2 separate regions of the Homo sapiens genome follow, and region 1 is linked to region 2. The links come from fine-mapping of genetic effects on gene expression. A gene starts in region 2. The other region holds a variant in brackets. All regions are shown on one strand. Distances are between the middles of the regions.

Evidence for each region. PIP is the estimated chance that this variant, and not a neighbour inherited with it, causes the effect.
Region 1: its variant is fine-mapped to the expression of DPY19L3 in whole blood (INTERVAL, PIP above 0.99).

Annotation. Positions count from the first base shown.
Region 1 is chr19:32,422,187-32,437,688 of GRCh38, forward strand. It overlaps DPY19L3 (dpy-19 like C-mannosyltransferase 3), which reads left to right. Exons shown (of 19, transcript NM_001172774.2): 4 at 10,530-10,620; 5 at 14,260-14,381; 6 at 15,008-15,153. Among named protein-coding and RNA genes, the nearest start is that of DPY19L3, 24 kb to the left of the region's middle. The variant T/C (reference allele first, on the strand shown) is at 7,422.
Region 2 is chr19:32,398,127-32,413,628 of GRCh38, forward strand. DPY19L3 (dpy-19 like C-mannosyltransferase 3) reads left to right here and starts at 7,644. Exons shown (of 19, transcript NM_001172774.2): 1 at 7,644-7,783; 2 at 10,091-10,230; 3 at 13,113-13,246. The coding sequence starts at 10,128. DPY19L3-DT (DPY19L3 divergent transcript) reads right to left here and starts at 7,413. Exons shown (of 3, transcript NR_046201.1): 1 at 6,865-7,413; 2 at 1,625-1,742. RefSeq lists silencers at 7,196-7,245, 7,276-8,025.

The DNA of each region.
Region 1 (15,502 bases), 24 kb after region 2:
TGAAGAACAGTCACCAGAATAATTTTACAGTGGAGATGTGGAGGTTGTAACCACACGTGTCACATTAAAAGATAATCCTTTGCCACTGTGGAAGATGAATACAAAGCAGAAACATAAGAAGGTATGTGCCTTCTTCAAGGGGAAACAGGAAGAGAACAAAAGGAAGTGAAATATGAACTGGCAGACTTTAGACAAGAAATAGAATTACAAAGTAGAATCATTATAGAAATTATGACCGTCTCAGATGCAACATACAGGAGACTGGAATCCGTAGAATGTACAGAAAGAGCAATGTTGGACAGGACTGAGAGAGGTCAACAAAATGAAAGGAGATTGAATAAAGTGACAGTATGAGAAAGCAAGTGACAATTGAGGACAAAGAGCAGCAAGCATGCATCATTTGTGTCCCAAAAAAAGAGAACGAGAACAATAAATCAGGAAAAACACACACACACACACACACACACACACACACGTTTAAAGATGTAATTCAAGGAAACTTTCCAAAAGTAAAAGGAAATTTGAATCTACTAATTGAAGGGGCAGAGCAGTTTCCAGGATAAATTGGCCTAGAAAAATCATTAGCAGGATAGAGTTCTCTGAAGTTGCTGAACTTAAATATGTAAAGAAACCTTTGGACATTCTAGACGAAAAGATCAAGTTACCAATAAGGAGAAACAAAAGTCAACCTAGCATTCAGTTTCTCCACAGTAATGTCTAATGGTCAAAGACCATGAATGATGCCTAGAAAATGCTCAAGTAAAAGAAAGTGATTTACACATTTTAACCCAGTCATTCCATTGCATATAAAGATGGCATACAAACTTTTTTGTTCCTAGAAATATGTACTTTTAAGAATACCTGAAGAAATTGGAAGAGGAAAAACTTCATCCATCCATGAGATACATGGAAAAACAATGACAGAAAGATGCTCAGTGGGGCTCAAATTTATTTAACTATAGGACTAAAACTAAAAATTAGTGATAGAACAAAATGTGTATGATATAAATAATGTTATATTAGGTACAAAAGTAATGTAGGTCTTGTCATTAATTTTATTTATTTATTTATGAAACAGAGCTCGCTCTGTCGCCTAGGCTGGAATGAAGTGGCGTGATCTTGGCTCACTGCAACCTCCGCCTTCTGGGTTCAAGCAGTTGTGCCTCAGCCTCCCCAGTACTTGGGATTATAGGCATGCACCACCATGCCCAGCTAATTTTTTTTTTTTTTTTTTGGTATTTTTAGTAGAGACAGGGTTTTGCCATGTCAGGCTGTTCGAGACATGCCAGGCTGGTCTCGAACTCCTGAGCTCAGGCAGTCCATCCACTTCTGCCTCCCAAAGTTAGGATTACAGGTGTGAGCCACCATGCCTGGCCGCCATTACTTTTAAATGGCAAAAACCACAATTACTTTTGCACCAGTCTAATACACAAGAATGCCAACATAAGTAATAATGTTATAATGCATAATAATAACATAACAGTGTAATACGTATAACACAAGATAAAAGAAGAAGGGGAAGAGAGGGTAAAAGATGGTGGAGGCTGACTGGGCACAGTGGCTCATGCCTGTCATCCCAGCATTTTGGGAGGCCAAGGCGGCAGGATCGCTTGAGCTCAGTAGTTCAAGACAAGCCTGGGCAACATGGTGAAACCCCATCTCTAAAAACAAAAACAATTTGCCAGGCATGGTGGCATGTGCCTATAGTCCCACCTACTCGGGAGACTGAGGTAGGAGGATCACTTGAGCTCAGGACACAGAAGTTATCATTAGCTAAGATTGTGCCATTGGCCTCCAGCCTGGGTGACAGAATGAGACCATCTCGAAAAAAAAAAGGTTGGGGAGGCCAGCTGGCACAGTGGCTCACAGCTGTCGTCTCAGCACTCTGGAGGGCAAAAGGTGGGAGGATTGCTTGAGCCCAGAAGTTCAAGACCAGCCTGGGCAACATAGTGAGATCCCATCTCTACAAAAAATTTTTAAAAAATTAGCTGGGTGTGGTAGTGTGCACCTGCAGCCCCAGTTACTTGGGAAGCTGAGGCAGGAGGGTCACCTGAGCTGGGGAGGTCAAGGCTGCAGTGAGCTGTGATCACACCACTGCACTCCGGTCTGGGCAACAGAGTGAGACCCTGTCTCTAAAAAAAAAAAAGAAATAAATAAAAAAAAATGGATGGGAGTATCCTGATTTCTTTCTCTTTTATAACTGGAAGTCAGAAAGTTTGATTTAAAACTGATAAGACACACAAGCCTGGGCAACATGGTGAAAACTTGTCTCTACTAAAAATACAAAAAAAAAAATTAGCCAGGCTTGGTGGCACACAGCTTACACCCAGCTGCTTGAGAGGGTGCAATGGGATGATCACCTGAGCTCAGGAAGCCAAGTCTTCAGTGAGCCAAGATCATGCCGTTGTGCTCCAGCCTGGGCAACAGAGCAAGAACCTGTCTCAAAAACAAAAAAAGGTCTCTGTAGATCTTCAAGTTGACCTACAGAGTCAACATGATCCCTCTCAGAATCCCAGGTGGACTTTTCACAGAAATTGACAAGCTAGTCCTAAAATGTATATGGAAACTCAAGGGACTCAGAATAGCTAAAACAGTTTTGAAAAAGAAGAACAAAGTTGTAAGACTCAAACTTTCTGACTTCAAAACTTACTATACAGCCACAGTAATCAAGACTCTGATGCTGGCATAAGGATAGACATATAAATCAATGGAATAAAATTGGGAATACAGACATAAATCCTTAGATGGTCAAGTGATTTTCAGCAGGGCACCAGGAAGGACAGTTACGTGGAGAAAGAATAGTCTTCAATAAATGGTCTATAAACAAATGGATATTCACATGCAAAAGAATGAAATTAGACCACTGCCTCACACCATACACAAAAATTAACTCAAGATGGATCATAGGCCTAAATGTCTAAAACTATAAAACATTTAGAAGAAAATATGCAAATGAATCTTTTATAACTGTGGAGTAGGCCAAAACTTCATAGAGACCACACTAAAAACACATGATTAAAAATAAATAAATAAATTGGTGTTCATCAAAATTAGACATTTTTGTACTCCAAAGTACACCATCAGACCAGGTGCTGTGGCTCATGCCTGTAATCTCAGCAGTTTGGAGGCCAAGGCAGGCAGATCACTTGAGGTCAGGAGTTCAAGACCAGCCGGGCCAAAATAGTAAAACCCTGTATCTATTAAAAATACAAAAATTAGCCAGGCGTGATGGCACACATCTGTAGTCCCAGCTACTAGGGAGGCTGAGACAGAAGGATCACTTGAACCCGGGAGGCAGAGGTTGCAGTGAGCTGAGATGGCGCCACTGTGCTCCATCGTGGGTAACAGAGCGAGACTCTGTCTCAAAAAAAAAAAAGAAAAAAATTAAGACTCAAAAGTCAAAATTATTCCTTGATCCATGGGCTGTAGAATAGATTTTGTGTTAGCAGGCATGAAAATAACACAGATAACCAGATGCATTATCAATGAGCAGTAGTATTTTGAAAAGAATTTTTTTTTTCTGTGTAGTAGATCTCAACAGTGGGCCTAAAATAGTAAATCGTGCTGTCAACACATGGGCTGTCATCCAGGTTTTGTTGTCCATCTTTAGTGCACAAGCAGAGTAGATTTCACATCATTCTTAATAAGGACCCTAGGATTTTCAGAATGGTAAGTGAACATTGGCTTCAACTTAAAGCCACCAGCTGTATTAGCCCCTAACGAGAGTCAGCCTATGCTCTGAAGCTTTGAAGTCAGGCATTGACTTCTCCTGAGCTGTAAAAGTCCGAGATGGCATCTTCTTCCAATAGAAGGCTGTTTCATCTACATTGAGTATCTGTTGTTTAATGTAGGCACCTTCATCAGGGATCTTAGCTGGATCTTCTGGATGACTTGCTGCAGCTTTTCCATCAGCACTTTCAGCTTCACCTTGCACTTGTATGTTAGGGAGATGGCTACTTCCCCTCAACCTCATGAACCAACCTCTGCTAGCTTCCAGCTTTTCTTCTGCAGCTTCCTCACCTCTCTAGCCTTCACAGAATTGAAGAGAGGGCCTTGCTCTGGATTAGGCGTTGGCTTAAGAGAATGTTTTAGATGATTTGATTTTCCATCAGAGCATTAGACTTTCCCCGTATCAGCAATGAGGCTGTTTTTCATTCTTATCATTGGTGCGTTCACTGGAGTAGCACTTTTAATTTCCTTCCGTAACTTTTCCTTTGTGTTAACAACTTGGCTCTTTGGCACAGGAGGCCTAGTTTTTGGTCTCTCTCAACTTTCGACATGCTTTCCTCACTAACTTATCATCTCTAGCTTTCCATTTAAAGTGAGAGATGTGCCACACTTCCTTTCGACGCTTAGAGGCTATTGTAAAGTTATTAATTCCGATATTATTGTGTCTCAGGGAGCAGAGAGGCCTGGGGAGAGGAAATGAGACAGAAGAATGACAGAGCTGTCAGAACACACACATTTCAGTTCACCGTCTTACATGGGTGTGGTTTATTGTGCCCCAAAACAGTTACAGTAGTATTAATAACATCAAAGATCACTGATCCCAGATCCCGTGACAGGTATAATAATAAAGAAAAATGTGAAATATTGGAAGAATTACTAAAATGTGACAGAGACAAAAAGTGAGCAATAGCTGTTGCAGAAATGGTGTTGATAGTTGTTTGATGCATAGTTGCCACTAAGTTTCAATTTGTAAAAATGCATTATCTGCAAAGGGCGGGAAAGTGAGGCACAGTGAGATGAGGCGTGCCTGAAGTCGTTTCCCTTTGTTTACAATGTGTTCTTTCTTTGGTGTTTCGTTGTTTGTTTGTTTGTTTTTGAGGCAGGATCTTGCTCTGTCTCCCAGTCTGGAGTGCAGAGGTGCGATCTCGGCTCACTGTAGCCTCGACTTCCTGAGCTCAGGTGATTCTCCCACTGCAACCCCTCAAGTAGCTGGAACTACAGGGGCATACCACCATGCCCAGCTAATTTTTTATATTTTTAGTACAGCCTGGGTCTTGCCATGTTGCCTAGGCTGGTCTTAAAGTCCTGGGCTTAAGTAATCCACCTACCTCGGCCTTCTAAAGTGCTGGGGTTATAAGCGTGAGCCACCGCACCCCCGCATTCTTCTTTCTTGTTGGAACATAAACATCTTTCGGTCAAATACTAAATTCTTGCACCTTTTTGTTTCCCCAGCAAATAAATATGCAATGATAAGGAAGGCAGTTCTCCTTTGGCTATAAGCACCAACATCACTCTTTCTTTTTAGTCTTTTTTCCTTGTGCTAACATTTTCCACTGTTATTCTTATTTACTTGATATTGCCGAATTTGCATGTCTTCCCATTGAATACTCCTGCAAAGCAAGGAGACTTTAGAATAGATAGGGGTAATCCACACAATAGTAGTACGGTAGTGCTAAGACTGCTGATTGCCTGAGTGTGGGCCCAGTGGAAGAACTGTCACTTCAGTAGCAGACTGCCCTCCTCACAAGCCCTGCTTGGCACTTCTCACATGCCACGGCTTTAATCAACTCTGGGGCAAGAATCATTCCCCTCTAACAGATGGACATGAATTTAACCAGACAATAAACCATGTATGTGCCATAAATATGTTTGCTGAGGGCATGATTCCCAGTACAGAACTTTAAGAACAGCTGTCTTATGGGCTACTATTTCTTGGTGAGATGATTTGTTAACCTAATTCTGAAACAGATTACATTTATAAAGTTAATTTTTCGGTGGCTTCCCCACTACTAGCAGTCTAATTATTTTGGGGGACAATTTTTGTAAACAAATCTTTTTTTTTTTTTTTTTTTTTGAGACAGAGTTTCACTCCATCACCCAGGCTGGAGTGCAGTGCCGGGATCTCAGCTGACTGCAACTTCCACCTCCCGGATTCAAGCAATTCTCATGCCTCAGCCTCCCAAGTAGCTGGAATTACAGACATGCACCACAATGCCCAGCTAATTTTTGTATTTTTAGTAAAGACGGGGTTTCGCCATGTTGGCCAGGCTCGTCTCAAACTCCTGACCTCAGGTGATCTGCCCACCTCGGCTTCCCAAAGTGTTGGGGTTACAGGTGTGAGCCACCGCGCCTGGCCTGTAAACAGAACTTTTTTACGTGAGTTGTTCTTGTTTTTTTAAACATGAGTTGTTTTGTTTTTTTTAAAAAAAAGCAAGAGGAGAAAGACTTCAGGACCATTGCGATAGATGTAGGGACCACTGCAATGAGGTCTTGCAGTGGTGGAGAGAGATTGTACTCAACTTCTAGTACATCATGGGTGAGTAGGAATAGGCAGCCAAGGAGCGGATTGGGGTCAGTGGCTGGGAAATGAGTAAGAGGAACCACTGGGATGCGGGGGATCCTGGCTCAACCAGGCTTAGAGGGTTCTTGCTAAAGGCAGGCCAGAGTGACCAGACATTATGTGGGGGATCTATTTACGTGAGATTTTTAAAAAGCTAATTTGATGTTTCCTTTCCAAATTTGGTGTCATTTGTCTCAAAGGACTCTAGCCTTTTGGGCATTGCCAGCAACTTGTCTGAGTGCCTGTGGGGAATGTGATCATTTATTGTGAGCAGTCATTTTTTGTGTGTGTGTACATCTATTAAATTGCTATATACACTGTTACTTCAATGGTTTTAGCTGTACAGTTTTTTTTTTGTTTTTTTTCTTGTTGTTGTTGTTTGTTTGTTTTGAGACGGAGTCTCACTCTGTCTCCCAGGCTGGAGTGCAGTGGTGCGATCTCAGCTCACTGCAACCTCTGCCCTCCGAGTTCAAGTGATTCTCCTGCCTCAGCCTCCTGAGTAGCTGGGATTACAGGCGCCTGCCACCGCGCTTGGCTAATTTTTTGTATTTTTAGTAGAGACGGGGTTTCACCATCTTGGCCAGGCTGGTCGTGAACTCCTGACCTCAGGATCCACCCGCCTCAGCCTCCCAAAGTGCTGGGATTACAGGCGTGAGCCACCACACCCGGCCAGCTGTACAGTTCTTTATAAATACAAGTCTTTTGTCTTTCCACTTCTTTCTGTCATTATCTTCGAAGATGTTTTCGTTCTGTCAACATTGCATTCCCCATGGAACCTGTGCAAATTGAATATGAAGTATTTGTTCGTTTTGCATTCTTTAGAGGATAACTACTATTGGTGTATATTTTCACGGGTGTGATCTACCAAGCGAAGTATAAATTGCTGTAAAACTGGAAAAGTGTTTGAATGAGTGAAGCAGATGTTCTCTTAGCATGAAGCAGATGTAAAACTTGCAAGTGTCTGTCTAATAAAGTATAGCATTTGGTTCTGTACAGCTGGTGCTAGATTACCAATTAATCATGTTTGAATGCATTTTTACTAATTAGGTCCCCCTCTGTTCTTTGTGCATTCTGGCTATAATAAAGGGAGAGATGGGACACAAAAGCTTTCTACCTTTAGTACTTTGAGCAG[T/C]GTTTTTTCTTATTCCCTGGTCTTTTATTCTTAGAACCATATAATTCACTCTTTCATTCTTTATTGGCTCTCCAGTTTGATTTGGGATGTAGGTGTGACAGGATTTTCACACTCCTCAAGTGCCTTTGAACACTTTAAGGAAGCTAGAGAAAAGAAAAATAATGTAATTAATGTTGTTGTTGTTGTTCTTAATTTGCATGGACAAAAGCTAGTATTTGCTCAGTTAACATCAATTCATAGCCTCTGTGGTTATTTGAATGAGTAGGAGTTTGGACATTCTAGAAACGAGTGATACCAGGTTGGTTTTAAGTTCTCAAAAGCAATAGAGCACGTTTTCTCAAAGATAAAAAATGAGTGGATTAAAGTAACTACCCAGAAGAGTTGCCTTTACTGCTATGAAAGATACAACACAAATCACTAGCAATGAAAGTTTAAAAAGCTGTATCATTATGTAGTAGCCTTTTTATAACGCAAGTGTGTTATTGAAATTAAATTTTAGGCCCAGGCACTGTGGCTTCTGTCTGTAATCCCAGCACTTTGGGAGGCCACGGCAGGAGGATCACTTAAGCTCAGGAGTTCAAGACCAGCCTGGGCAACATGGCAAAACCCTACCTCTACAAAAAATACAGAAATTAGGTGGACATAGTGGCATGTGCCTGTAATCCCAGCTACTTGGAAGCCGAGAGGATCACTTGACCCTGACACGCAAAGGCTACGATGAGCCGTGATCATGCCACCGTACTCAGCCTGGGTGACAGAGTGAGACCCTGTCTCCAAAAAAAAATAAATAAATTTCAGAACCTGATGGGCCTTTTTTTAAATGCTTGATTTCCCCAGGATAAATTGGTTTTCTGTGAAAGGAAGTTCAATATATAAGATTTGCTACCCTACCTCCCATTTTTCTAAAAGGAATTAACAAACAATGATAAAAAGATTTAGAGGGTAGCAGAAATATATTAAATAAATAATTTCTAAGTCTGAAGATAATAGCATGAATGGTTCTTTCTTATTTATTTATTTATTTATTTTTTGAGGCAGGGTCTCGCTCTATCATCCAGGCTGGAGTGGCTTGATCATGGCTCACAGCAGCCTCAGCCTCCCAGTAGGCTGAGTCTCAATCGATCCCCCTTCCTCAACCTCCCCAGTTGCTGGGAGTTCAGGTGCATGCCACTATGCCTGGCTACTTTTTTTTTTTTTTTTTGTAGAGACAGGGTTTTGCCATGTTGCCCAGGCTGGTCTTGAACTCCTGAGCTCAAGCAATCCACCCACTTCAGCCTCCCAAAGTGCATGGCTATAGGCATGAGCCACCGCACCCAGCCTGAGTGGTTCTTTTAATGAGATGTTTATTACCATTTGAAAATTAGTTGGAGTTAGGGGGAAGCAAAATGAGCTAAAAGAAGTTCATCAGCTAGAAAATGAGATGTTCAGTATTTATCACTTTCCCCCATTGGGTTTGTGGAATGTGAATCTGCTATAATATGAAAAAGCATGGCCGGGTGCAGTGGCTCACGCCTGTAATCCCAGCACTTTGGGAGGCCGAGGCAGATGGATCACCTGAGGTCGGGAGTTCAAGACCAGCCTTACCAACATGGAGAAACCCCATCTCTACTAAAAATACCAAATTAGCCGGGCATGGTGCACATGCCTGTAATCCCAGCTACTAGGGAGGCTGAGGCAGGACAATCGCTTGAACCTGGAAGTTGGAGGTTGCAGTGAGCCGAGATCGCACCATTGCACTCCAGCCTGGGCAACGAGTGAAACTCCGTCTCAAAAAAAAAAAACAGATCGAATTATATTTTAGACAGTGTGTTACAGATTTTAGGACATGGTTTGTTTTGTTTTGTTTTTAACACTGGTGTAAAAGAATCTCTAATAACATAGATTATAACTTTTTATTTATTTATACTTTTACAGGTACAGGTTAAGTATCCCTCATCTGAAATACTTGGGGCCAGAAGTGTCTTGGATTTCAGATTTTGGATTATTTGCATATATATAATGAGAAATCTTGGGGATAGGATTCAGGTGTAAAGATGAAATTCATTTATGTTTTATGTATACCTTATGCACATAGCCTGAAGGTGATTTTATACAATATAGTTCATAAAACAAAGTTTGTAGACACTGAACCATCAGAAAACAAAGGTGTCACTATCTCAACCATCCCAGTGGACAGTCTATGGTTATTTGGCATCACCATTGTTCCTGACTCTGAATTTACATGGTGCCTTTATAAGTAATCATTTTGTTATACTTATTCGTACATAAGTACTTAACAATAAAAAATATGACATACCATCAATACGGTGAAAAAAATAACACTTTCAGGGTAACTTGTGTCATCGTGTTGGCTCTCAGAAGGTATCCAATTTTAAAGTATTTCATTTGGATTTCAGCTTTTCAGGTTAGGGCTGCTCAACCTATAAATAAAGTGTATCATCTAACAGTATTAATTGGATTATTCCAGAAAGTCTTCCGTGTCATTGTTGCCCATTGCTTCTGTTTTATAGTAATAATTTAAATTTAATAAAAGTATCTTGTAACTAAATTGGCTAATAGCTATTTAAGTTTTCAGTTCTTCTAGGGTTGAATACTTATCTAAAAGCAGTTTAAATATTTCATGTATCCATTTACCTGCATAAACCTCTTCCCACCAGGGTTACGCTTGTCAGAGTAAAATTCATGTGTCTGCCTTATTTGACTACAAATACCTTTTATTCTTAGAATAAAATGAAAATGATTGATCTTATGTAATATTGGTAGCTTTTAGGTAGGTGTCTAATGCAATTATATTTCTTTTCATTTTTTTTTGTGCCATCCCTGTTTTGTGTCTCACTGCTATTACATAGGAATGGTGATGTATTCTTTAAAATTTTTTTTAAGATTAAACATTCACTAAAGTAGAGAATAGTAGGACAGACTCCCATGTATCCCTCACTCAGCTTTAACAGTGATCAGCCTTCCATTCTTGTTTGCCAAGATTTTTTGAGACTATATTTTCAGAGTTTTTTCTCTTTCAAGTTGCAGTTATGTATCCTTTCTACAGTAACAATATGTATTTAAACAAAACTAGGTCACATAAACCCATAGGATCTAACTCTGTTTTAGGAAGTGGAGCGAGAAATCTCATTCAGAACAGAGTGTGGCCTGTATTACTCCTACTACAAGCAGATGCTGCAGGCTCCAACCCTCGTGCAAGGTAATTACAACTGATAGTTTCATTTGGGGTCTCCTGCATTTTTTTCAATATTTTAGTGAGAAGTACTGTGCACTAAAAACCACTTAAATGCTCTCTAGAACATGTGTATTTTTCCGTGCTAATGTCTAATCATTTCATGAAAATGTTTTTTGCTCTGGAAGAAGTTATGTAATACTTTATATAACCCTCCTCTCTTTGCCTTCCAGCTCTGTTCCATCCCAAAAGTAATATCTTTGCAATTTCATGGTTTTGTTGCTGAATTTTCTCATGATCATTTTGGAGGAGGTCTTTGCAGGTGAAAGGAGTATTGTCTGAGAACAGGAGGCATTTTGGTAACACAAATGAAAATTACAGTTGTGCCTCTTGTCCCCAGTGCTCCATTCATTCCTTTATTTCACAGTTGCCATTTTCCTGCATTTTTACTTCCCCTAAGTGGGTTAGACCCCACACTCTGCCTTTACTCCATCTAATGAAAGCCCCAACATGGATCTCTTCTACCTAGTACATACTTGATCGGCTTAGCATGAGTGCATGTGACAGAAAACTGCTCTTTTATAGGCTTTATTTGGAGTCAGCTTTGACATTTTTGGTGGCAGTTATTCATAAATTATTTTTTTGCTGTTGTTTTTGAGACAGGGTCTCACTCTGTCGTCCAGGCTGGAGTGCAGTGATATGATCATAGCTCGCTGTAGTCTCAATCTCCCAGCCTCAAGCAGTCCTCCTGCCTCAGCCTCTCAAGTAGCTGGGACTATGGGTGTGCACTACCACGTTCATTTTTTGTTTTGTTTTGTTTCTCTGTGGAGACGAAGTCTCACTGTGTTGCCCAGGCTGGTCTCAAACTCCTGAGCTCAAGTGATCCTCCTGCCTCAGCCTCCCAGTGTGTTGGAATTATAGGCATGAGCCACCGCGCCCAGCCCATAAGTGATGTTTTTTACTTGTAGTTTTATCACCTAGGAGACATGACATTTTGGTTATCTTTGGTTTTGTGCCATAAAAATTAATGAGTTGGTCCCTGTGATGATAGCCAGATTCATCCATAATAAGGGTAATTAATCACCAGCCCTTCGCTTAGTGGTTTTAGCAGCCATTGATGATTATCGTCTGTAGTTCTTATTTCAGAGGGGATGCAAATTAGTGACCTTCTAATTCTGTCATTCCTCCTTATTTATTAGTTGGAACTATGTTATATAGAAAACCTTCTCGTTAATTGTTTGGCTACCTTGCAGTACAGTTTATACAAGAAAAGCAGGCTTAGTATTCATTTTTTCCCCATACAATCAAACCTTGTTATTCACAGATTCCATAGTTGCAAAATCTTTTACTTCCTAAAATGTACTTATAACCCTAAAATCAGCATTAATAGTACTTTCACAGTCATTCATGGACACGTCCAGAGCAACAGAATACTTTAGCCTCTGGCATGCGTGTTTCCCACAGAGACTGAATGAGGCGACACTCTGCCTCCTTGTCTCGGCTCTCACACTGCAGTGTCCTTTTCAGAAAGTCTGTTTTATGCCATGTCCTTTGCATTGTTTTGCTGTTTGTTGAAGTTTAAAATGATCCTCTGAGCCTGGGCGCAGTGGCTCACTCCTGTAGTCCCAGCACTTTGGGAGGCCGAGGCGGATGGATCACCTGAGGTCGGGAGTTCGAGACCAGCTTGACCAACATGGAGAAACCCCATCTCTACTAAAAATACAAAAAAATTAGCCGGGCGTAGTGGCGCATGCCTGTAATTCCAGCTACTCCGGAGGCTGAGGCAGGAGAATCGCTTAAACCTGGGAGGTGGAGGTTGCGGTGAGCCGAGATCACGCTACTGCACTCCAGCCTGGGCGACAGAGCGAGACTCCGTCTCAAAATAGAAAAGTAAAAAAATTAACTAATTAATTAAAACACGACAGACTCTTAAATGGCAGAAATTTATTTTCTCACAATTCAGGAGGCTGGAAGTCTGAGGTTAGGGAGCCACATGGTCAGGTTCTAGGGAGGGCTCTCTTCCTGGCTTGCAGACAGCCACCTTCTTGCTGTGTCCTTACATGGCAGAAAGAGAAGAGCGAGTTCTCTGGTGTCTCTTCTTGTAAGGCCACTAATCCCATCATGAGGGCCCATAACTGTCCAACTCTTAGGTTGGAGAGTTATCCATCCATAACACTCCTGTGTTAGACTTTAGGCTTGCCATAATGTAATACCACAGACTGCGTGGCTTAAACAACAGAGATTTTTCTCTCCCTTTTGGAGGCTAGAAGTCCAAGATCCACCTGCTGTTAGGATTGGTTTCTATTGAGGCCTCTCTTCCTGGCTTTGTAGATGCCCTTTTGTTGCTGTGTCCTCACATAGCCTTTCCCTCTGTGCAAATGCAGAGAGAGCACAAGGGCAAGCTCTTGTCTGTTCCTCTTATAAGAACACCAGTCCTATCAGATTAAGACCCCACCCATGTGACCTCACTTACCCTTTATTACCTCCTGTAGGCCCTGTCTCCAAGAACAGTCATATTAGGGCTTCGGGCTTCAGCATACAAATTTGTGGGGGACACATTTCAGTCCACAGCACCTCCTATTGAGGAACATCTGGGTTGTTTTGGATCAATCTTTTGCTGGTACAAATGGTGCTGCATGAGTGACCTTGTGCCAATGTCATTTTGTATTTTTGCCAGCCTTTGTGTGGGATTGATTCCTAGACATGGGCTTTCTAGGTCAAAGGGTAAATTCATATGTGATTTTGCTGGATACTGCAAAATTCCTCTCCATAGAGATGACACCATTTTGTATTCCCAACTGTAGTATATAGGAGTCTACTTTTTTATAATCTCACAGAGTGTATTGTAAAACTTTTTTTGCCAAGGCAGTAGGTGAGAACTAGCATCCCTCAGGGTAGTTTTAATTTGCACTGTTTTAATAGGAGCAAGGTTGAGGATCTTCTCCTGTGTGGAAGGACTGTGTGCATGTTTTCTTCTGTGAACTATCCATTCATGCCTTGGATTAATTAGCCTGGTTACAGTGACAGAGGACCTCTGTGGCTGTGGATCTCTGTAACAGCAGGTCAAGTTCTCCTTCATCCTTCTCATGACATGTCTGCTGTGAGGGAGCTGCAGCTCTGGTCTGCCCCCAACATCTGCGCATTCAAGCCCTATTTGGAATGTGCCAGTGTCATGGCAGAGGGCAAGAGCAAGAGCTGGTAGAAACATGCCTTGTCTTCTAAAGCCTCTGCTCAGCTATGGCTTACATCCACTTACATGCCACTGGTTAGAGCACATGGCCAAAGCCGTTCTGGGGAGTGGAGAAGGAAGGCCATGTATACTCTCCCAAAGGAGATACTGCAGGTTGCATGGCAGGAGGGCAGGGTGGAGAAATGTGAAATCCTCTTGCCCACATTTCTAGAGAAGGACCTTGTGGTGGTGGTGGTGGTGGTTTCATTCCAGTTACAAAAGTTTTAATTTACCTATGTTTGTGTAAATGTTTAAATGATGTCCATCGAATATGTGGTAAGCTCTTTGAGGGCAGGAGTATGTTTTTTTTGCTTACTCTTATATCCCCAATGCCTACCACAGTCTCTAGCACTTACTAAACAATCTGTGCATAGTTTTGAATGAATGAATAATTATGAGTGTAATTATTTTCTTCCTGACTTTTCACATATCTATAGGTTTTCATGGCCTAATATATGATAATAAAACTGAATCTATGAAGACAATTAACCTCCTTCAGCGAATGAATATTTACCAAGAGGTTTTTCTCAGTATTTTATATAGAGTTCTACCCATACAGGTATGTTTTGTGATATTGAATTATTAATATCAGATGAAAGTCAAAGTCTGCCATTTTGAACTGAAAGTTATCACATCGTTCTTTCTGATCTTCAACTGGTTTAGTAGAAAATCAGCAATACTATATTTTTTTTCCATGTATATTATGAACTTTATAAGATACTGCTTTTTATTTACATAGGATATAAGGTTTTTGTACACAGATGCTTCCTGGCTTATGTATGTATGCGGTCTAGAAGCTAATAAATATTTTCATTTGCTCTCTGTAATCAGGAGTGATTACACATTCACTCCTGATGGATCTTTGAGAGAAAAAATTTGTAAAGTCAGCAAATCACAATGACCACTTCTCATGTGAATGACGTATCATCAGACAAAGTTAGGTATAAAACTTTCTAGAGTAAAGAGTGAAGCCAGACCTGTCACGGACTTCCTTCCCCTGTCTCTTCTCGGTGGTGGGAAGAAAGGCTACCCGAACGCTTCTCTAATAGATGAAAGGGGTGTGGGCTTGCTGCTTGGAATTAGAGGCAAGCTCCTGCATATTGTATTCCTACTGTCATGTTTTAAATGGCACTGAGGAGGGTTAGGGCTCACCTGACAAACATGTTTTATTGTTCCCTTTTACAGAAATATTTAGAGCCAGTTTATTTTTATATTTACACCTTATTTGGGCTCCAGGCGATCTATGTCACAGCTCTCTACATAACCAGCTGGCTACTCAGTGGTACATGGCTGTCAGGACTGTTGGCAGCTTTCTGGTATGTCACAAATAGGTGAGTTGGAGTCAGTATGCTTCTTTTTTTTCCAAAATGTAAGTAAAAATGAAGTCACTTCATTTCCAGCTCAGAGAAATTTCTTCTGCCACATTTGTTTGGTTGGGAGCAGTTTCTCTTTGGTTTGCCTGGTGGTTTACTCAATTTTTCTTATTTAGTTAGGGAGAAAGTGCTACTTACATGTAATTCCAGCTGAGGAACAGAGAGCATTGAATTGCATATCAAGAAAATCATTCATAATAATCCCAAACCTATTATCTGTTTGCTGGGTGATCAAGATTTCTCCAGCCGCATATCTCATCTCTTAAAGGGTTTTTTTAAATTGGCAAATAATAATTATACATATTCA
Region 2 (15,502 bases):
CTCATGCCTGTAATCCCAACATTTTGGTAGGCCAAGGCTGGAGGATCACTTGAGCTCAAAAGTTCAAGACTAGCCTAGGCAACATGGTGAGACCTTGCCTCATTTAAAAAAAAAAATGTTTATATGTATACAGAAAGAGAAGACAAAATTTTTTTCTGATAAAAGTTTGGAGGCTGGGCGCACTGGCTCACGTCTGTAATCCCAGCACTTTGGGGAGACCAAGGCAGGCAGATCACTTGAAGCTAGGAGCTCAAGACCAGCCTGGCCAACATGGTGAAGCCCCATCTCTACTGGAAGTACAAAAATTAGTCAGGTGTGGTGGTACACGCCTGTAGTCCCAGCTACTCAGGAGGCTGAGGCATGAGAATCGCTAGAACCCAGGAGGTCAAGGCTGCAGAGAGCCAAGATCGCGCCACTGCACTCCAGTTTGGGAAACAGAGTGAAATCCTGTCTCAATAAATAAATAAATAAATAAATAAATAAATAAATAAATAAATAAAAGAAGTTTGGCGACCATTGCATTGACTTTTACCAAGATACTTGAAAAGTCAACTAAATTGGATGAAAGTACTGTTGGAAAAAAATATATGTAGTATACCAAACTGCCCCATACATGTTTCTGTAAGGGAATACTCAGCATTGTAAATATCTCATTTCTCCCAAACATTTCTAAACACTTTATATAATTCTAGTAAAAATTTCCATGGATTCTGTTTTAGAACTTAGTAAATGATTATAAAGTTTATCTGAGCAAATAAATATGCAGAAATTGCCAAAATATGTGGTTAAAAGAAGTGTAATGAAGGGTCAATTGCCCTCTCAATATGAAAACATTCTATAAAATAATTAAAAACATGTAGAACTGTTTCAAGACTAATTACTTTTTAAAATCATTTAAACATAAGTGTCATCTTATAATACAAAAATTAGCCAGGCGTGGTGGCTATAGTCCCACCTATAGTCCCAGCTACTTGGGAGGCGGAGGTGGGAGAACTGCTTGAGCTCAGGAAGTGGAAGTTGCAGTGAGCCGAGATCATGCCACTGCACTCCAGCCTGGGCCACAGGGCAAGACCCTGTCTCCAGAAAAAAAAAAAAAAAAAAAGAGTGAGCTTATAAATAAGCCATATACATATGGGAATTCAGTATGTGGTACAGGTAATTTAAATCAGTAGAGTAAGGATGATGGTGAAATAATCAACTATCTAATTTAAAAAAAAATTGTCAAGTCTCTCCCACACCATATTAAAAAGTTATAATATTTTTAAATACTAGCAGAAAGAATTAAAAAACATTTACAATCTTGAGATGGGGAAGGTTTTTCTAAGCATGATGGAAAAACCCAGAAGGTATAAAAGAAATTTGACAATATAAAAATGGAAAATCCCTGCATAGCAAAAGACATCATACCAGATACACAATAATGAGAAACTATCTGCAGCATATATGACAACAGATTAATAAATACCCATAATCGGCCAGGCGCAGTGGCTCACACCTGTAATCCCAGCACTTTGGGAGGCCGAGGTGGGCAGATTCCTTGAGCTCAGGGGTTCAAGACTAGCCTGGGCAACATGGCAAAACCCCATCTCTACAAAAAATTGTTTTAAATTAGCCAGGCACACACCTGTGGTCCCAGCTACTCAGGAGGTTGAGATGGGAGGATTTCGTGAGCTCAGAAGGTTGAATCTGCAGTCAGCTGAGATGGCGCCACTGCACTCCAGTCTGGGCAACAGAGCAAGACCCTGTCTCGAAAACAAAAACAAAAAAAACTCATAATCTATAAATAATCCCGTCACAGCAAGATTAAATAGATGGTGAAAGAACACAAAAAGACAAATTATACAAAAGAAATGCAAATAGCCAATAAACTCCTGATATATTGTCTTCACCTCATTAATAAAGAATGCACACTAATCATGTATTATTTGTCACCTAAGATTGGCAAAGATTTAAAAACTAATTGTTGGCAATGGCATGGAGAAATAAGTGTCATAATACCCACTGGTGGAAGAGAAAAACAATAGAATCTTTAACCTTTTTGGAATGTAGTTTACCAATGTTTATCACAATTTAGAATATGAGTTCTAGGGCTGGGCATGGTGGCTCACAACTGTAATCCCAGCACTTTGGGAGGCCGAGGCGGGTGGATCACTTGAGGTCAGGAGTTCAAGACCAGCCTAGCCAACATGGTGAAATCCCATCTCTACTAAAAAGACAAAAATTAGCCCGGCATGATGGCGGGTGCCTGTAATCCAAGCTTCTCAGGAGGCTGAGGCAGGAGAATCGCTTGAACCTGGGAGGCAGAGGTTGCAGTGAGACAAGATTGCGCCACTGCACTCTAGCTTGGGCGACAGAGTGAGACTCTGTCTCAAAAAAAAAAAAAAGAATATGAATTCCAACAACCCTGTTTCCAGAAATACATCCTAAAGAGTTACATAAATATAAGTATGTTCTTACAGCATTCCCTGAAATAGCATAAAACTAGAAACAACCTAGATGTCCAACTAGATGGGAATAAATAAATCGTAACACATACATACGGTGGATATTGTATTGGTTATCTATCATTGTACAAAATTACCCCCAAAACTTAGTGGCTTAAAAAAACAATGTACATTTATTATCCTCATAGTCTCTGTGTGTCAAATACTTGGGAGTGGCATAGATGGGCACTTCTGGCCCAAGATCTCTTATGCCGCCATCTGAAGGCTGACCTGTAGCTGGCCGATCTATTAGGTTGGTGCAAAAGTAATCTTGGTTTTTGCCATTACTTTTAATGTCCCACCAACCTAATACTTCCAAGATGGCTCACTCCCATGGCTGCCAAGGTGGTGCAGGCTGTTGCCTACGTGGCCTTCTCTACAGGCAGTTTGAGTGTCCTCACTACATGGTGGCTGGCATCCCCGCTAAGTGAGCAATCCAAGAGAGGCTAAGGCTGAAACTGGGATGTCTTTTATGACTTAGCCTCAGAAGTCCCACACTGTCACTTCCACGGTATTCTGTTGTTCACAAAGAAAAACCATGATTCTGTGGAACCGGATACTGTATGAGGATAAACATGAGGCAGCACAGATCGTGTAAGCTGAGGTCTAAAGGCTGAAGAGTACCTAGTCAATTAAAGAGGGTTTAAGACTTTTTATAAGCCACGTGACAAACCTCTGACAGAGGTTTATGTGAATAGAAAGTGAAGGAGAGGTTGAAGAGGGAAACAGAGCCTGATTCGTGGCAGTCCTTACAAGCTGTGTCATGGAGCTTAATTTTTATAATAAAGCCAAAACGCCTCCAAGGGATTTATATTTTAGTAAGATCACTATGGTTATTACATACAGGTAAATGGACTACGGTGGTGGCAACAGAGATGAGCAAAGTGAACAAGATCTGAGGTATTTACGAGATAAATGCCAACAGGACTCAATGGATGATTGGATGTGTGGATTACACAATAGAGAGGAATCAAGGATGGCTTCTAGGCTCTTGATTTGAGCAATAAGGTAAATGGAGCACACAGAAGGAACCGCAAGTGTGGGGATTAGAAAAAGGTTTAACATGTTGAGTTTGAGGTGTTTACACACATGGAAATGTCCAATAGGCAGTGGACATATGGCACCTGGAGACCAGGAGATACACCTGGACATAAAAACAGGAGTTATCAGAGTATCAGTGGAAATCAGATCCACGGGCCACAGAATCATTGATTTTTAAGAGGAAGAGGAGGCCAGGCATGGTGGCTCATGCCTGTAATCCCAACAATTTGGAAGGCTGAGGCAAGAGGATCGCTGCAGCCCAGGAGTTTGAGACCAGCCTGGGCAACAGAGAGACCCCCTGCCACCCCCAATCTTTACAAAAAAATTTTTAAAAAATTAGTCAGGCATGGTGGTGCATGCCTGTAACCTAGCTATTCTGGAAGATGAGATGGGAGGATTGCTTGAGCCTTTGAGAGCAAGGCTGCACTGAGCCATGATTCAGCCACTGCACTCTAGGCTGGATGACACAGTAAGTCCTCTTTCCAAAAAGGGAGAAGGGAGGAGAAGAAGAAAGAAGAGAGGAGGAGGAGGAAGAACAGGAGGAAGAGGAAGAAGAAGGAAGAGGAAGAAAGAAGAAAAGAAGAAAGAAGAGAAAGAGAAGGGAGGAGGGAGGAGGAGTAGCTGCATGAAACTTAAAAGGAATGCCTGAAAGGTAGACAGAGGAAACACGCACAGTCTGTTGTCACAGAAGGCAGGAATGATGGAGAGTGTTTATACTAAGTCAAACAATTGAAAAATGAACACTGGGCTGGGCGCAGTGGAGGACACCTGTAATCCCAGCACTTTGGGAGGCCAAGGCAGGTGGATGACTTGAGATCAGAAGTTTGAGACCAGCCTGGCCAACATGGTGAAGCTCTGTCTCTACTAAACATACAAAAATTAACCGGGCGTGGTGGCCAGCACGTGATGCCAGCTACTCAGGAGGCTGAGACAGGAGAATCGTTTCAATCCGGGAGACGGAGGTTGCAGTGAGCCGAAATCACCCCACTGCACACCAGCCTGGGTGACAAAGTTAGACTCTACCTCAAAAAGTTAAAATAAATAAAATTTTTAAAATGGACATCATGTATCAGACAGGAAAAAGCCAGTAAGACGGAAGAACTCACACCCTCGGGATCCCAAGACAAGATACTTCCATGGGATGGATGTAATGAACAGTGTTAAAAGATTTCTGGTGCAGTGCTTCTCAAAGTGTGATGTACACATAAATGACCTGGGGGTCATATTAAAATGCAGATTTTGGCTACACAGGTCTTGGGTAGGACCTGAGACCTGGCTTTTCTCAGAAGACCCCAGGTGATGCCCATGCTGCACAGCCCACAGACCACATGTTGAGTAACAAGGTTCTGCTGTGGTTCCCAAACTTTTCCGAGCACAGAATTATCTGGAAAACTTCTGTACTAGTCCATACAGCTATACATACTGCTATAAAGGATACTGCTACAAAGAATGCCCAAGACTGGGTAATTTATAAAGGAAAGAAGTTTAATTGACTCACAGTTCAGCATGGCTGGGGAAGCCTCAGAAAACTTACAAACATGGCAGAAGGCAAAGGGGGAAGCAAGGCACTTTCCTCACAAGGAGGCAGGAAGAAGTGCTGAGCGAAGAGGCAAGATCCCCTTATAAAACCATCACATCTTGTGAGAACTCACTATCATGAGAACAGCATGGGGGAAGCTGCCTCCATAATTCAATTACCTCCACCTGGTCTCTCCCTTGAAAGGTGGGGATTATGGGAATTACAATTCAAGATGAGATTTGGGTGTGGACATAAAGCCTAACCATATCAACTTCTTAAAGATTAGTGGTCCCCTAGCCCTACAGATTCTAAATTGAGTAGGCGTGGGGTAGGGCCTGATAACATGCATTTCTTAACAACCTCCCAAGTGATGGTGACAGTGACGCTGCAGATCCCCAGACCACACTTTTGAGATGCACAGCACAACTATTTGTGGCCCTGGCAGAGACAACCAGGGAGACTATTTAGGCTTCTAAACCTACTGCAAACCGGAAGTCTTGCTATATACCACCACTGCAGTCACAGTCCATTACAGGAGCCCATTCCTTTTATAGTACCTCCCTGGCTCCGGGCTCATATGGCCAGAAGTGTGAGCAAGGACCTACACTCATTATCCATCACCTCCATGGTTACTTTATCAGAACCAAAGACTCATTCTTAATTGGCTTATTCTCCCCAAGACTTACTCTCAGCAGTAGGTCCTACTTAGGAAAAGTCTCAAAGCTTCATCTTGCTTAGGAATGTCTTTTCATAGTATTAAAAAAAGCAGCTACTGCTGAATTCTACTTTCTTTTTAACTAAGCGATGATATTTCACAATGGTCACATTTCCCCCAGAGTGAAACAACTTGAGAGAAAAAAAAAAACCTATAAAATAAGAGGGAAATCCTATTTAAGGGGAACTCAATTCACCTATGTATTCATGAAACAGACACATGCACATAAAGGCATCTTAACGTGAAAAATAAACATACAGTCCTTGCCCTCAAGCCAGGCGACAGAAAAGCTACCAACAACCAGGCTGAAACAAGACAAATGCCATCTGAAAAAACAGCTGACATTTGTTTCTATCAAAGCCATCCAGCAGATACCTCAACATCTTTCCACAGAACGTGTGCTCTTTACTAACAACCGACACACAAAGGAGGACGATCTCCAACAGAGGTGACTAGGAAAGGCTTCCTGGATGGCGTAATTTAGTGTTGGAGTCAGACCAATGAGCCGCCTTTTCACGGGTGGAGGTCCCAGATGGCCATCCCTTTAACAAAAATCAATTAACATGTAAATTATGTACTGACAAATACAACGTTTGATGGGCCCGCTGCAGTGGCTAAAGCCTGTAATCCCAACATTTTGAGAAGCTGAGGCAGGAGGCCTGCTTGAACTCAGGAGTTTTAGACCAGACTGGTCAACACAACGAGACCCCATCACTATAAAAATTAAAATGAATCTCAGCTACTCAGGAGGCTGAGGAAGCAGGGTCACTTGGGCACAGGGGACTAAGGTTGCAGTGAGCTACGATCACACCACTGCACTCCAGCCTGGACGACAAAGCAAGACCCCCATCTCTACGAAAAATTTAAAAATTAGCTGGGCATAGTAGTGCGAGCCTGTGGTCCCAGCTACTCCGGAGGCTGAGGCGGGAGGATCGCTTGCGCCCAGGAGGCCGAGGTTGCAGTGAGCCGTGATAGCACCACTGCACTCCAGCCTGGGCGACAGACTGAGAGCCTCACCTGTAAAAAATAATTTTAAAAAAGGTTCCACCTAGTGTTTTCCGTGGTGTGACTAAGAAAAGTATCTAGAAATAAAGCACAGTCAGTACCTGCTCTCAAAAAACGGCTGCCAATCTAGTTTGGAGACAGAAAAATATACCCGACTGAGAACACAGAGGAGCCTGTTTTCGGAAGAGGGGCGTCTTTGGAGACGCAAAATCCTCTCCGCGGGACGCTGACGGGCAGTCGGTAAAGGACTTCCAAGCACTGGTCAGTGACAATCGGGCGCTGGGGCTTTGCCAAGGCCCGGAGGCGGCGCGCCAAACCGGGCAATGCGGGAAGCGGGGCAGGCCCGAGTGGCCCTACTGCTGCCGTCCCTACTGATCCCTGCGCATCCGCCACAGAGCAGGGAACGGCAGAAAGGAGGAAGGAGGGGGAGTTCCGTAAATCAGGCCCTCAGGGGCTCCCAGGCCCGCACCCCTCTCAAGCCCCGGGGACCACCGCGGAGCCGCTGCTCCGGGCCGTGCGGCTCGAGGCGAACCTGCCTCAGAGCCGCCGGGCCCTCCTATCCCGAGCCGTATCTCTAGCTCCGGCCTGAGGTGGCCGGCGACTGCGTGCGCAAACACAAGATCCGCACCCCACTCCCCGCCACTGCAGCTCCGCGGCCGCGCTCAGAGTCTCCGGAACAGACCGGACTCAATGCGGACCAGGCAAGCGGAAGTGTGCCGCTTCCTTCCGGCCAGCGCAGCACGAGACGAGGCGGGGAACCGCGGGAGGAGGCGGGGCCTAGTGTTGACGAACAGCTCCCGGGGCCTATGGGCGCGGGGGCAGCCGCCCGGCCTCTCCGGCGCGCCCCCTCCCCGGGGCTGTTGACGCCCCCCAGCCCCTCATTTCCACAAAGCTCCGCGGCGGTTCTGCCCTCCTTGTACCCGCGGCGCGCTGCGGCCCGTGGCGCGGCCCCGTTCCCGCCTAGCCCCGTCGGCCTCCTTCCCCTCCCGGAGCCGCGCGTGAGGACGGCTGAGGCCGCAGGTCTGTGGCGGCGCGCCGGGACGCGCGGGCGAGGGTCTACCGAGAGGGCGGGCGGGCGCCGGCGGAACCCTCGGCTACAGCCCCGAGCCCCTGGGGCCGCCCCTCCCCGCCGCGTGGCGCAGTCGGGGGGCGCGGCCGCGGCGTCGGGGCGTCGGGAGGGGCGGAGCGCGGGAGTGTCTGCCGGGACGCGGGCCGGGCTGGGCTCCGGAAGGACCAAGTTTGCGGAGCGGCTTCTGCTCGTCGGCCGTGCGGCGAGGCAGGGCCTGGGCTGCGACCCCGGCGGCCGCTCGCGGTCTTGGGAGAGCTGGGGCGCGTGCCTGAACTTCCCGGCTGCCCCTGTCCTTGGAGACCTACCTGATGGGGACGCCAGGTGTGCAGGGGCGTGGCGCGTAGGTAAGCGGACCCGGTGCCTGCCTCGTCCAGGGGATGCTCACTAGAGCGCTAGGCTTTTTTATTTTTATTTTTTAGAGACAGGGGTCTCGCTGTCTCGCCCAGGCTGGAGTGCAGTGGCGTTATCACGGCTCACTGCAACCTCGAACTCTTGGGCTCAAGCGATTCTCCCACCTCAGCCTCTGGAGTAGCTGGGACCACAGGCATGCACCACCGAGCCTGGCTATTTTATTGTATAGATAGGGTCTCGCTCTGTTCCCCAGGCTGGTCTCAAACTCATGGTCTGAAGTCATCCTCCTGCCTCAACCTCCCAAAGCGCTGGGATTACATGAGCCGCCTCGCCCGGCTAGCGCTAGTCGTCCTTATTAATAAAGAATCGCTTCTGGTCCCTTTTCAGTTGTTTACAATGGCATTCCTTTTGATCTGATGGAGGAACTTTTTTTCTTAGTTCATGGGACTGTTGCAGTGCCTGACACATAATTGGTACTTAAATATGTGTTGGTTTTCTGCCTTAACATATTAGAATATATGAATTGTTTAAAAAAGTCCTCTCACACTTAGGGAGGACTCTAGGATGAGGTCACATGGGGGATAAGCCCATCTGTGGCTGTAGGACTTTGTTAAACACTCCTCTTCTCCCTCTCTGTTCCAGATTCTCCATTTCCAGTGCTTGAAAGCACAGTACTTAAATCTGGCTTCCTGCTTTTTTTTTTTTTTTTGGTATGAATGAATACATGAATTGTATAATGTTAGTTGGTTTGTTCTGTAGAGCAAGTTACCCTTAGGAATTAATAAACTGTGGAAACAATCATGTCAGGCTACTAGTCACATTTAAGAAATAATTAGTAAGAGGCTGTTCATTATTCAGAGGAGTGAAGCAAGATGTTCTGGAGGACTGGAACCCGCTTACTCACTGCCACCACTCCCCCGCCTCCCACTTGCTGCTGCCAAACCAGGCTCCTGCTCCCCCCCACCCATTACTCCCACCGACGCTCCCTGGGATAGCAGCTGCCCTGATTGGCACACCCCCGCAGTCATCACCACTGAGGCGTATTCCTGAAGCTGCCAGTGTGAATTGTTTTATAGAACACTGGTGTTAAAATTCAGGTACCTGAGACAAAACAATATTTTAATTCTTCAAAATCCGGTTGTCAACACATTTACTATGGAGTATCTCCCACGTGGCCACTTCTGTGGGAGGTACTGAAGACCTACTACCGCCTATGGAAGTAGAAAATAATATACAACTGTGTAGTTACGTGACGCATTGCGTGGTAACTGCTATGGCTCAGGGAGGGAGAAGATCAGCCGGAACTGGAATGTCCCAAGATGTTCTGGAAGAAAAGCAGTGGCTCGTTTGTGTTGCTTACCTGTATTCCTGACTCCTGGCAGGGCCTGCTGTAGAGCACATGCTTCATGAATAAATATGATTGAGTTGAATAAATATTTGAATTGTGTTTTGAGTGTAGCTTTGAAGGCCAGCAACGATTTAGATGGCAAGATCGAGGGCAGGCTGGGCACAATGGCTCATTCATGTAATCCTAGCACTTTGGGAGTCCAAGGCGGGGAGGATCGCATGAGGCCAGGAGTTCAGTACCAGCCTGGGCAAGATAGGGAGACCCCATCTTTACAAAAAATAATTAGCCAGGTGTAGTAGCACATGCCTGTAGTCCAGATACTCGGGAGGCTGAGGTGGATCACCTGAGCCTGTGGAAGTAGAGGCTACAGTGAGCCGTGATGGTGCCGCTGCACTCCAGCCTGAGTGACAGTGAGACCCTGTCTTGGGGGGAAGAAAAAAAAAGGGAGGGCATGCTAATAGAGGGAAAATGGCATAAGTAAAGGCATTTCAGCATGGATGAGCACGGGGTGTGTTGGGGAGAAGGCACTGACGTTGATGGCCTGTTTATTGCTATCTAGGAGTGATTTGGAGAACAATGCATGTAAGTCTGACATCATGATGTCCATCCGGCAAAGAAGAGAAATAAGAGCCACAGAAGTTTCTGAAGACTTTCCAGCCCAAGAAGAAAATGTGAAGTTGGAAAATAAATTGCCATCTGGTAGGTGATTTAAACTAAAGCAGCAATTTGGGTTGCTTTTATTTCTGCATATTAAAATGTCACTCTCCAATAGGATAAAAATTTGGTGGGACCTAACAATTGAAACTTGTTGTAGTACCCTGATATTCTAATTGCAATTTGATTAGATTGATTTTACAGTTATGATTTGACAAAAGATGAAAGAGCTTTGATTAGAAGTGTTTGTCAGCTGTCTGTTCATTAACTTACGGTTCTTCCAATCTCATCCTTTGACTCTCTAGAGTAATGGTCCCCCCACCCACACCCCAGATTTTAGTCTCTCTCTAATTTTTCTGGTCGTGTATACTATTTACACCAGGCAACCTTACCTTGGGTGAGTTTCCATTAAGGTAGTGAAAGGTGGATCAACATTTTTTAAAAATTCTTTATAATTAGTCAAATTCCTGAAGTTTTCTTTTGCTTTTTTTTTTTTTTCTTTTATTGGTGGGAAAAGTAATCAGAACTTGGTCAGTTGTTTGTATAATGGTAAAGACTTGCTAAGTGATGCATCAGATAGCATTAATTACCAACTTCTTGCTTCCTGAGTAGCTTTTGTAACTAAAGCATGGTCAGGATTTTAAAAGTTAACATGAAAATCTTCATACCCATTAACCATTTTGGATATCTGACAGAATTTACATTATTTACAGCCATGTTAATTCTTACCAGCCAGGCTAGTAAAGCAATTCAGGGAAACAGTTTAACAAAAGTAATCTGTAATGGGAGGTCATGACACCTGGCTCAGCCATTAGCGAGTGATTAACACGTTTTGGATAATAGTACTTTCTGAACACCTTAAACAATGCAAAGAAAAAGAAATATACTCCCATCCTGAAACTAACACCAGTGGCACTGTCTTGCTGTCTTAATGTCATATTCTGCACATGTATACCCATAAGCATTCGTATACAGTTTTGCAAAATTGGGATCCACGTGCTGTTTTGTAGCTTGCTATTTTTCTCTTATTATGTTATGAACATGTCATAAGCCAGTTAACGTATTTTTGAAATATCATCTATGTAAAGTATTTTTATAGCTGCCACTGTAGAAGTGAAAGGTTTTCTTACCATTTGCTAATACAGACAGAACTGTGATCAATTTCCTTGTGGCCATATGTTTGTTTAAAACTTTATTTCCTTGGGGCATGTCTTAGTCCATTTCTGTTGCTATAAAGGAATACTTGAGGCTAGGTGATTTATAAAGAAAAGAGGTTTCTTTGCCTCAGGGTTCTGCAGACTGTATGAGAAGCATGGCACCAGCATCTGCCTCTAGTGAGACCTCAGGAAGCTTCCAGTCGTGGCAGAAGACTTAGGGGAGCCAGTGTGTAGAGATCACATGACCAGAGTAGAAGCAATTTCCAGGGAACACAGGATGTCAGGCTCTTTTTTAACCAACCAGCTCCCCTAGGACTAACAGAATGAAAACTCAGTACTGCTAGAATCTCACCAACCTGTTTATAAGGGCTCTGGTTCCATCACCACACCACCTCCCATTAGGCCCCACCTCCAACATTGGGAATCACATTTCATCATGAGATTTGGAGGGGCCGAATAGTCAAACCACAGCAGGGTACATGCCTAGATTGGGAATTACTGGCCAAATGGGATGCTCATTTTGGTGGCTTTTACTCACTGCTGCCATGTTGCATTCCAGAGAGGCACCAATTTATTCTTCTAGCAGCAATGTTTGAAGATGTCTATTTTTTATACCCTTACCAAAACAGTATTAGCATTTTGAAAGCTGTCAAATTGGCCAAGATTTAAGTATAACTCACAGTTTTGATTTGCATTTCTTTAACATTAATGAATTTAAACATCTTCAGTCTGTTATTATTATTGGCCACTTTTTTCTATTGTACATTGCCTGTTCATGTCCTTAATCTTTTTCCTACTGCAGTATTCATCTTGACAGGACAATAAATTGTCCTGAAATAAAATAAATTGTCCTGAAAGTATTCATCTTATGTTAAGGGTATTTAAGCTTTCTTATATGTGCTATCCATATTTTGCCTAGTTTATATGTCCTTTAACTTGAGTTATGTTGGATTATTTATTCTGTGGGTTTTTCCCCCCAGAGCATTCCTGCAAAACCTGTGGGTTTAAAAAAAAAGTTTTAGGTAATCGGCCAGGTGCAGTGGCTCATGCCCGTAATCCCAGCACTTTAGGATCCCAGCTTGGGTGGGTGAATCACTTGAGGTCAGGAGTTCAAGACCAGCCTGGCCAACATGGTGAAACCCTGTATCTACTAAAAATACAAAAATTAGCCAGGCATGGTGGCATGTGCCTGTAGTCCCAGCTACTCAGGAGGCTGAGGTGGGAGAATTGCTTGAACCTAGGAGGCAGAGGTTGCAGTGAACCGAGATTGCACTACTGCATTCCATCTTGGGCAACAGAACAAGATCCTGTCTCAAAAAACAATAATTATTTTTTAGGTAATCAAGTTTTTAAAATAGCTTTTAAAGAATAAGCCACCAATTGTACCTAGATTATCTAAAAGATCGATTACGTCCTAGACACGTAACACATTTAGTCATCCATTTAACAGACTTCATAGTTAAATTACGGTTGTTAAACTGTGCCGGACAGAGGCCCTCAGTATTAAACATGAATAAGATAATGTATTTGTCTTCAAGAAGCTCACGTTGTAGTTGGCAGAATGGACACATGGACAGTTAGATACGGGGTAACAGTTGTAATAGAATGAAAACAGGTCTGTGGAATCAGAAAGGACCCTCCGCTGGAGACAGGAAAAGCTTTCCCAGTGACAGGCAGCTAGACTTAGCTTACTTGATAATCTGAAGTAGAACTATTACATTCTGATTTTTTTACTGACTTAGTTATTTATCTGTTCCATTTTTCCAAAAGGTTGTACCAGTAGAAGATTATGGAAGATTTTGTCATTGACAATTGGTGGAACCATTGCCCTTTGCATTGGACTTCTTACATCTGTCTACCTTGCCACGTTACATGAAAATGATTTATGGTTTTCTAATATTAAGGTATGGAGTTTCTTTGACCATTGTATCATTCACTCAGTGGGATCTCCAGTAGTAAGCCATGTGGATGAATGACCAAGGCAACACAGTTTTGCCATAAAGAATCCAATCTCTAGAAAGGTTGGACTATAGAGTGAAATAACTTTTGTGTTTATTATTTTAAAATAACATATTAGAATCTTTTTTTAAATTTTTCTTTATTATTTATTTATTTTTGAGATGGAGTCTCACTCTGTCACCCAGGCTGGAGTGCGGTGGCGCAATCTTGGCTCACTACAACCTCTGCCTCGCAGGTTCAGGTGATTCTTCTGGCTTAGCCTCCCAAGTAGCTGGGACTATAGGTGCGTGCCACCACACCCAGCTAATTTTTGTATTTTTACTAGAGACGGGGTTTCAGCATATTGACCAGGCTGATCTCGAACTCCTGACCTTGTGATCTGCCTGTCTCAGCCTCCCAAAGTGCTGGGATTACAGGCGTGAGCCACTGCGTCCAGCCAGAATCTTTATTTTTCATTTTAATTTTTTGAGATAGGGTATTGCTCTGTCACCCAGGCTAGAATGCAGTGGTGCAAACATGGGTCACTGCAGCCTCAACCTCCTGGGCTCAAGTGAGTATCCTGCCTAAGCTTCCTGTGTCACTGGGACCCCAGGCATGCACCACCTCACCAAGCTAAATTTGATTTTTTTGTAGAGACAGGGTCTCACTTTGTTGCCCATGCTGGTCTCGAACTCCTGGGCTCAAGCGATCCTACTGCCCTGGTCTTCCAAAATATGAGAATGAGCCATAGCACCCAGCCCAGAATTTTTATAATCAAGTGAGTTTTTTCTTTTTCATTAACTTATTCCATTTATTTAGCAGTTATTCTAAATTAGTATTTTTCAAGTTATAGATTGTGAAATTAGTGCAGTAGGTCATGAGTAACATTTTTCTTAATGAAATCAAAAAGAAAGAATACTATCACATCTAGTAGGGTTGAGGATTGTTTTGTGAAACTTTTAATTTTATATATATATATATATGCACAAACTGGGTCACAGTATACAAGGTACTTCCTTTTCTTTTTTTTCTTGTTGGCTACAACAGGAAAAAAAAAAAACAGAAAAGGAAATAAAAAAGCCACTGCTTTAAATCATGGGGTCTAAATGTGGCTCCACAGAGGGTCCTCAGCATGTTCATGACTATCTAATACTCTGTGCAAGTGGTTTTGCAGGGCATAGGGCGATGGGGAAGCCATATGTTTCCAGGGAAAGGAACTGTAATTTTAATCAGATTTTCAGGAGGGTTAGCCGGGCGTCACGCCTGTAATCCCAGCACTTTGGGAGGTCGAGGCGGGCAGATCACTTGAAGTCAGGAGTTCAAGACCAGCCTGGCCAACATGGTGGAACCCTATCTCTACTAAAAATACAAAAATTAGCCGGGCATGGTGACACACACCTGTAATCTCAGCTACTCAGGAGGCTGAGGCACAAGAATCACTTGAACTCGGGAGGAAGAGGTTGCAGTGAGCTGAGATCCCACCACTGCACTCCAGCCTGGGCAACAGAGCAATACTCTTTATCAAAAAAAAAAAGAAAAAAGTTGAGGGGGTGGTCTGTGACTCTTTAAACACGTTTCCTTGTTTTCTTTCTCTCTCTCTTTTTCAACATTTCTAGAACTCCTCTTGGCATTGTTTTCAGAACTCGTATATAACTTACATGTGGAAATTTGCATCCAAATATACCTTACATTTTAATCTAATATGTCATGATCTTTAACCTAAACTGTGGTGTCTAATGACTAGTTGCTTGTAAAAATAAACAAACACCTTCAAAGCCAAAGATGTGTATCTATAAGAATGTTCGAAAGAAGTGACTGATGAAGGATCTGAAGACATTTTCCAAAGAAAGTTTTCCAAAACATTTTGAGCTTTGATTCTCTTACTGAAATGAGCCTCGAAAGGATATTACTTTGATGACAAATCTAATTTATAAGAATGACCTCTAGTGTGTTTATTTTTAAAACTTGCTGTGTTACTTTATGGGTACAGTATATATATCTTTATACAAATTATCATAGTACCAAAGAAGAATAATTCTTTTTTTTTTTAATTATTATTATACTTTAAGTTTTAGGGTACATGTGCACAATGTGCAGGTTAGTTACATATGTATACATGTGCCATGCTGGTGCGCTGCACCCACTAACTCGTCATCTAGCATTAGGTATATCTCCCTATGCTATCCCTCCCCCTCCCCCCACCCCACAACAGTCCCCAGAGT